Homo sapiens: one gene and its partner. The protein of the gene in region 1 purifies or fractionates together with the protein of each later gene. This does not show direct contact. Each region holds a gene or a part of one and is shown on either strand. Other genes may lie near its edges. The genes, in order: SLC35G5 and SLC35F3.

Region 1 (3,312 bases):
CGAGTGATCCGCCAGCCTCGGCCTCCTGAGGTGCCGGGATTGTAGACGGAGTCTGGTTCACTCAGTGCTCAATGTTGCCCAGGCTGGAGTGCAGTGGCGTGATCTCGGCTCGCTACAACCTCCACCTCCCAGCCGCCTGCCTTGGCCTCCCAAAGTGCTGAGATTGCAGCCTCTGCCCGGCCGCCACCCCGTCTGGGAAGGGAGGAGCGTCTCCGCCTGGCCACCCATCGTCTGGGATGTGAGGAGCCCCTCTGCCCGGCTGCCCAGTCTGGGAAGTGAGGAGCGCCTCTTCCTGGCCGCCATCCCGTCTAGGAAGTGAGGAGCGTCTCTGCCCAGCTGCCCATCATCTGAGATGTGGGGAGCGCCTCTGCCCGGCTGCGACCCCGTCTGGGAGGTGAGAAGCGTCTCTGCCCGGCCGCCCTGTCTGAGAAGTGAGGAGCCCCTCCGCCTGGCAGCTGCCCCGTCTGGGAAGTGAGGAGCACCCCGCCCGGCAGCCGCCCCGTCTGGGAAGTGAGGAGCGTCTCCGCCTGGCAGCCGCCCCATCCGGGAGGGAGGTGGGAGGTCAGCCCCCGCCCGGCCAGCAGCCCCGTCCGGGAGGGAGGTCGGGGATCAGCCCCCGCCCGGCCAGCCGCCCCGTCCGGGAGGGAGGTGGGGGGTCAGCCGCGGCCTGGCCAGCCGCCCCGTCCGGGAGGGAGGTGGAGGGTCAGCCCCCCACCGGCCAGCCGCCCTGTCCGGGAGGGAGGTGGGGGGTCAGCCCCCACCCGGCCAGCTGCCCCGTCTGGGAGGGAGGTGGGGGGCGCCTCTGCCCGGCTGCCCCTTCTGGGAAGTGAGGAGCCCCTCTGCCCGGCCACCACCCCGTCTGGGAGGTGTACCCAACAGCTCATTGAGAACGGGCCATGATGACGATGGCGGTTTTGTGGAATAGAAAAGGGGGAAAGGTGGGGAAAAGATAGAGAAATCAGATTGTTGCTGTGTCTGTGTAGAAAGAAGTAGACATGGGAGACTTCATTTTGTTCTGTACTGGGAGGGGTTCTTCTGCCTTGGGATACTGTTGATCTGTGACCTTGACCCCAGCCCTGTGCTCTCTGGGGCATGTGCTGTGTCCACTCAGGGTTAAATGGATTAAGGGCGGTGCAAGATGTGCTTTGTTAAACAGATACTTGAAGACAGCATGCTCGTTAAGAGTCATCACCACTCCCTAATCTCAAGTACCCAGGGACACAAACACTGCGGAAGGCCGCAGGGTCCTCTGCCTAGGAAAACCAGAGACCTTTGTTCACTTGTTTATCTGCTGACCTTCCCTCCACTATTGTCCTATGACCCTGCCAAATCCCCCTCTGCGAGAAACACCCAAGAATGATCAATTAAAAAAAAAAAAAAGAAAGAAAGAAAGAAAGAAAAGAAGCAGAGTTGGACTCAGCGGGAAAATAGGCGTGCTACCACCTCAGGAGAGTTCCAGGGAAGAACCCCACCCGCACTCCAATGAGGTCACAATGGCTGGAGCTCTGAGGGGCCCAGGCTCCCTGAGCCAGGAGGAGAGGAGAAAGTCCAAGGAAAGATGGCTGGCAGTCACCCCTACTTCAACCTGCCTGACTCCACACACCCATCGCCGCCCTCCGCTCCACCCAGCCTCCGCTGGCACCAGCGCTGCCAGCCCTCTGGTGCCACCAATGGCCTGCTGGTGGCCCTGCTGGGTGGGGGCCTGCCTGCTGGCTTCGTGGGCCCCCTTTCTCGTATGGCTTACCAGGGTTCCAACCTGCCCTCGCTGGAGCTGCTCATCTGTCGATGCCTCTTCCACCTCCCTATTGCCCTGCTACTTAAACTGCGTGGCGACCCCCTTCTGGGACCTCCTGACATCCGAGGCTGGGCCTGCTTCTGTGCCCTGCTCAACGTCCTCAGCATTGGATGTGCCTACAGTGCAGTTCAGGTGGTGCCCGCTGGCAACGCTGCCACTGTTCGCAAAGGTTCTTCCACCGTATGCTCCGCTGTCCTCACCCTCTGCCTTGAGAGCCAGGGTCTCGGTGGCTACGAGTGGTGTGGACTGTTGGGCAGCATCCTAGGACTAATCATCATTCTGGGACCTGGACTCTGGACACTACAGGAGGGGACCACAGGTGTCTACACCACCCTGGGCTATGTGCAGGCTTTCCTGGGAGGCCTGGCGCTGTCCCTGGGGCTTCTGGTCTATCGTTCTCTGCACTTTCCCTCCTGCCTCCCAACAGTGGCCTTCCTATCTGGCTTGGTGGGGCTGCTGGGCTGTGTGCCAGGCCTCTTTGTGCTGCAGACCCCCGTGTTGCCCAGTGACCTCCTGAGTTGGAGTTGTGTGGGGGCAGAGGGGATCCTCGCCTTGGTCTCCTTCACATGTGTGGGCTATGCGGTCACCAAGGCCCACCCTGCCCTGGTGTGCGCTGTCCTGCATTCCGAGGTGGTTGTGGCCCTTATACTGCAGTATTATATGCTCCATGAGACTGTGGCACTTTCTGACATCATGGGGGCAGGGGTTGTGCTGGGCAGCATTGCCATCATTACAGCCCGGAACCTCAGCTGTGAGAGGACAGGGAAGGTGGAGGAGTGAGATAGAACTTGGGAGCCCGGGGGTTGGGAGGGACAGGGATAAATAAAGACAAAGACTGAAGACAAAAAAAAAATAAAAGAAAAAAAATAATTATAATAAATCCTAGGAAAGAGTGAAAGTCTAACTTCCATAGCACATTATAATATTGAGATGTTCAGTTATAATAAAAATATCACAAAGCATGCAAACAAATGAGAAATCTGGCTTATTTACAGGAATAAAATTAATTGAACTATCCTTAAGGAATCCCAGACTTTGGACTTACTAGACAAAGACTAAACAATTGTCTTAAATATGCACAAGAGTTAAAAGACAACTAAATGAAATCAGAGAAATGATGTTTGAACAAAATGAGAATATCAATAAAAATATAAAAATTATAGAAAGGAACCAGGTAGAAATTTTGTAGCTGAAACGTGCGACAACTGAGATGAGAAATTCACTAGAAGGGTTCGATAGAGTTTGTTTGTTTTTTGTTTTTTGCTTTTTTTTTTCTGAGACAGAATCTTGCTCTGTCACACAGGCTGGAGTGCAGTGGCATGATCTCAGCTCACTGTAACATCCGCCTTCTGGGTTCAAGCAATTCTCCTACATCAGCCTCCCAAGTAGCTGAGATTACAGGTGCATGCCACCACACGCAGCTAATTTTTGTATTTTTAGTAGAGATGAGGTTTCACTATGTTGGCCAGGCTGGTCTCAAACTCCTGACCTTGTGATCCACCCGCCTTGGCCTCCCA
Region 2 (3,911 bases), on another chromosome or scaffold:
AGTCTCACATGTCCCCTTAGTGAAACGGATTTGGTGCAAAGAATTCTGATCCTCAGGGTTGACCTAAACCAGTGGCTCATGGACCAGCCAGAAATTGCTAAAGAGGCACTTAATGCACCCTCTTCTGAATAGAAGCCAAAAGCAGAAGGAAACAAATCATTAGCACCCAAGATTGTCCCAAAGGCAAGAGTAAAATAGTCCCAGAGAAAAGCTAATATTTAGTAAATGATGTATTTAACAGTTAAGTATCCCTAAGTGTATTTAATTTGTAATTAGGCGGTAACCCTTCATTAAAACTGATTAGGATGGTATGCTACTGCCTCTAACGAAATGCTCAAAGTGAGCTTATATGCACGTTCTTGATCAAGAATTATTGGGAGAGAAGATGAAATTCTTCTTTCCTGCTACCTTCAACCATACAGGCTGAAAGAGGACCCCCAAGTGGTAACACTGGCTGTTGTCCCAAATGTGCTCCATGGCTACCACTTACCTGGGAAGACTGTCACCACCAGCCACTTAGGGCGGGCCTGGCACCATTAAACTATTGTGCTGAAAACCGCACAGATGGAATCAAGATCAAGTGGTGCTTATACGGTCAATGTAGGAAAAAATGGAAGGTCATTGAAGATTAGTTATACATAGAAAAGCATCAGCACCTTGATTTCAACCTATTGTCTTCCTATAAAAAGTGCTCAAAAAGAATCATTTAAAAAATCTGATGACTGCCCTGTTAACTGGCGAACAATGTAAAAGAGGGAGGATAATCCCAACTTTATTGGTAAACTGGTTAAAAGCTTTCCCAATTTCTGTCATCACATTCTGCTCCAGCTCTTTAAAAAAGTTGTTTTGTTTTGTTTTGTTTTTTGTTTGTTTTTTTCTGATTATAAGCTGTGTTAGCCCCGTGGCTAGGCAGAGATGCTAATTTACCAGCCAATTATTAGGCATGTCAATCAAGCCATATACACCATTGGAGGGGTGAAGAGAGATCCTTCCTCAAAAGGAGAGAAAAATTTTAACATCACAGACCTTCCTTAGGACATCACAATTCTGTCACAACTCATATTGGGAGTACTTTAAACAGACTTTAGGATTCTCAGAGATCAAGGAAGACTGAAATCACATCTTTCATCTTCATGCTTTATCAAAATTAATGCCAGAGAGAAGATTTTGATTTGTCTGAGGAGATGAGTCTCTTGGCTAAAAGTGTTTAGCAGGGAGCTGGGAAGAAAAGGAGATGAACAGAGACCTGTTCCACCAAGAGGGGAGCTGGACAGATACAGCAGCTTTTCTTGCAGTTATCAGGAGGCAATCAGATGGAAGCTTCTTTTCTCTAAACCCTCCCCAACTGAGCCGCTTCCCCAGGGTGAAGCCGGAGCCGAGAGAGGAAGGCATGTGTTCCCCAGCACAGAGCTCCGCAACCTGCAACGCCCTGTGAGGCTCCCTGGGGTCTTGTTGAAGGCAGACTCTGATTCAGTGGGTCTGAGTGGATCTGAGATTCCGCTTTTCTAGGGAACTTCCAGGGAATCCTAGTGCTGCTGGCCCACAGGCTGCACTTTAACTGTAAATGCCCTGGAGTTGTTGAGTCCCAGCTACAGATTTTTTTTTTAAATGCTGCTGATTTTACCAAATGTTAGAACTAGGATTCACCTCACCATGTAGAACTGATGAGTGACTCCATTGAGCCCCAGAGGATGTTCGAGCCCTGGTCCTCTTCAAGCCCTGGTCCTCTGCCACTCATGACGGGAGGCTCCGTGGGCAAGTCCTCAAAGCTCTCAGAGCCTCAGATGCCCATTTGTAAATGGGAGGTGATGATATATGCACTGTCTTGTACAAAAGACTGCTGTGTGATCAAATGACACGCTGTATATGAAAGCGCCCTATACACTGTAACATGCTGTGTAAACGCGAGGAACAAGTACTGTGTTGTGATAGCCTCTGTGGGTTGTACTGAAGGCTGTTGCCCATGCTTTGTTCGTGAGCTGCCTTGTGGTGGCCAATTTAAACTACGAGAGTGCCAACCCCTATGCTGCATGCAAGTGTCAGTCCTGAAGAAATCAACTTGTGGCCCTAGTGCCTTCACAGGGCATACAAGAACACTGATCAGGGCTTCTCATGATCAGATACTGTTGTCAAGAATTAGATGTGAATGGGCAAACCTCTCAGCCTAACTCATCTGGGTTTTCAGCCCCTGCCTTAGTCTTCCTAGCAAGCACTCAACCATCCAGGAGTACAATGAGCTGCTTCCTTCTCCAATATGATAGGCAGCCCAACCCTTATCTTCACTGTTTCTCAATGAAGGTGGCCACAAGGATGTTCTGAGGAAGCAATAGTGCCCAGAACTCAGAGAGGGCTTCAGTCATGAGACGCTTGAGGGTGCTTGGGAACCACAGTTTCCTGGACCACCTAGCATCTAGGGGAGGCACAGGGAAGTGGCTGTATCAGGTCTGTGTTTGGGAGAGACTGTTGAGCACATGTGTGATGACACACAGCCTCCTGGCCCCTCTGACCTTGGAACAGGAATGCAGCTTTTCAGATCTGAGAGGTCAGCAGAGCTGGAGCAGATCTGGGGCATTTTCAGTCTTGTCCAAAGGTCTTCCAGGAATTTGCAGCAGTAATGACCTGCTTTCGAAAGCAAATGCTGAGACCTTCTGCTATCATGCAGCTGCCAAAAAAAGTGAACGGTGCAGTGGTGACAGATGTTTTTCTCTGCCTTTTGTAGTTCCAGGCTTTCTGTAAGCCAGCCAATTGATTCTGCTTCAGATATTCTGAGCAACAGTAGAGCCAAGAAAGGGAAAAGGGCAGTTTAGATGCCTTTCATCTTAAACCCTGCAAGGGCCCGGTGTGTGTACCTTGCCACCCAGACTTACGCAGGAACCATATCGGGTCTTGCAGCTGTAACATTTATCGGCCATTTAAAATCTAAAGAGCAGAGTGGAGCAGTTGCAAACCGGAGCTTTGTTCTGAAAATAGTTACTGTGCGTCTTCTCTAGGCAATGCACTAGAAATACAAGATAAATGGACTCTGGAAAGGGAGTCAGATAGCCAAACAGGGTGGGGGTGCATGCAAGGGAGCTGAGAGTGGGGGAAGGCCCAGATACATGTCCAGATACATGTGTCCTGGGGCAGGGTACAAAAGTTTCTTAGAAGAAGTTAGCTAGGGCCTGGCATGGTGGCTCTTGTCTGTAATCCCAGCACTTTGGTGGGCTGAGGAGGGCAGATTGATTGAGCCCAGAAGTTCAAGACCAGCCTTGGCAACATGGCAAAACCCTGTCTCTACTAAAAATACTAAAAATTAGCCAGGCGTGATGGTGCACCTGTAGTCCCAGCTACTCAGGGGACTAGGCAGGAGGATCACCTGAGCCTTGGGAGGTTAAGGCTGTAATAAGCAGTGATCAGACCACTGCACTCCAGCCTGGGTAACAGCGTGAGACCCTGTCTCAAAACAAAAAAAAAGAAGTTAGCCAGAAACAATTTATTTAAGGACAAGCAGATGGTTCTCTAGGTGCCGAAGGAGAAGGTCAAGAACATTCTAAGCAGACAGTAGCCTGGATAAAGGACACAGCCTGGACAAAGAGCACGGAGCTCTTCTTAGGATGTAGGATGTAATTGGGGTAAGGTGAAAGAGAAGACCCAGCAGTTAGGCAGAGCAGATGCTGGCAAGCCTCCTACACTATGCTGAGGAGTTTCACTTCCAGTGTGAATATCAGGAGTCATGGAAGCAATGATCAGATTGGATCTTTCAAAATGCAGCTGCTGCGACTCTGTAGAAAATGGAATGAAGGACAAGGCTGGAGGTCAATCCAGGTCAACATATACTTCTTTGATATCTATGTGGGCACGTGGACAGATGTGGATGACAATTGTTGTTCTTGACCCTAAGGAACTCACAACTGAGTGGGAGACAGTCTCCT

The links.
Region 2: the proteins of SLC35G5 (region 1) and SLC35F3 purify together in Homo sapiens (affinity purification with mass spectrometry; one large-scale study listed by BioGRID and IntAct). This does not show direct contact.

The regions. Positions count from the first base shown.
Region 1 is NC_000008.11:11,329,549-11,332,860, forward strand, and holds SLC35G5 (solute carrier family 35 member G5), read left to right. Parts: upstream 1-1,463; 5' UTR 1,464-1,558; coding exon 1,559-2,575; 3' UTR 2,576-2,812; downstream 2,813-3,312.
Region 2 is NC_000001.11:234,233,001-234,236,911, forward strand, and holds part of SLC35F3 (solute carrier family 35 member F3), read left to right. Parts: intron 1-3,911. UniProt on the Homo sapiens protein: Mediates thiamine transport.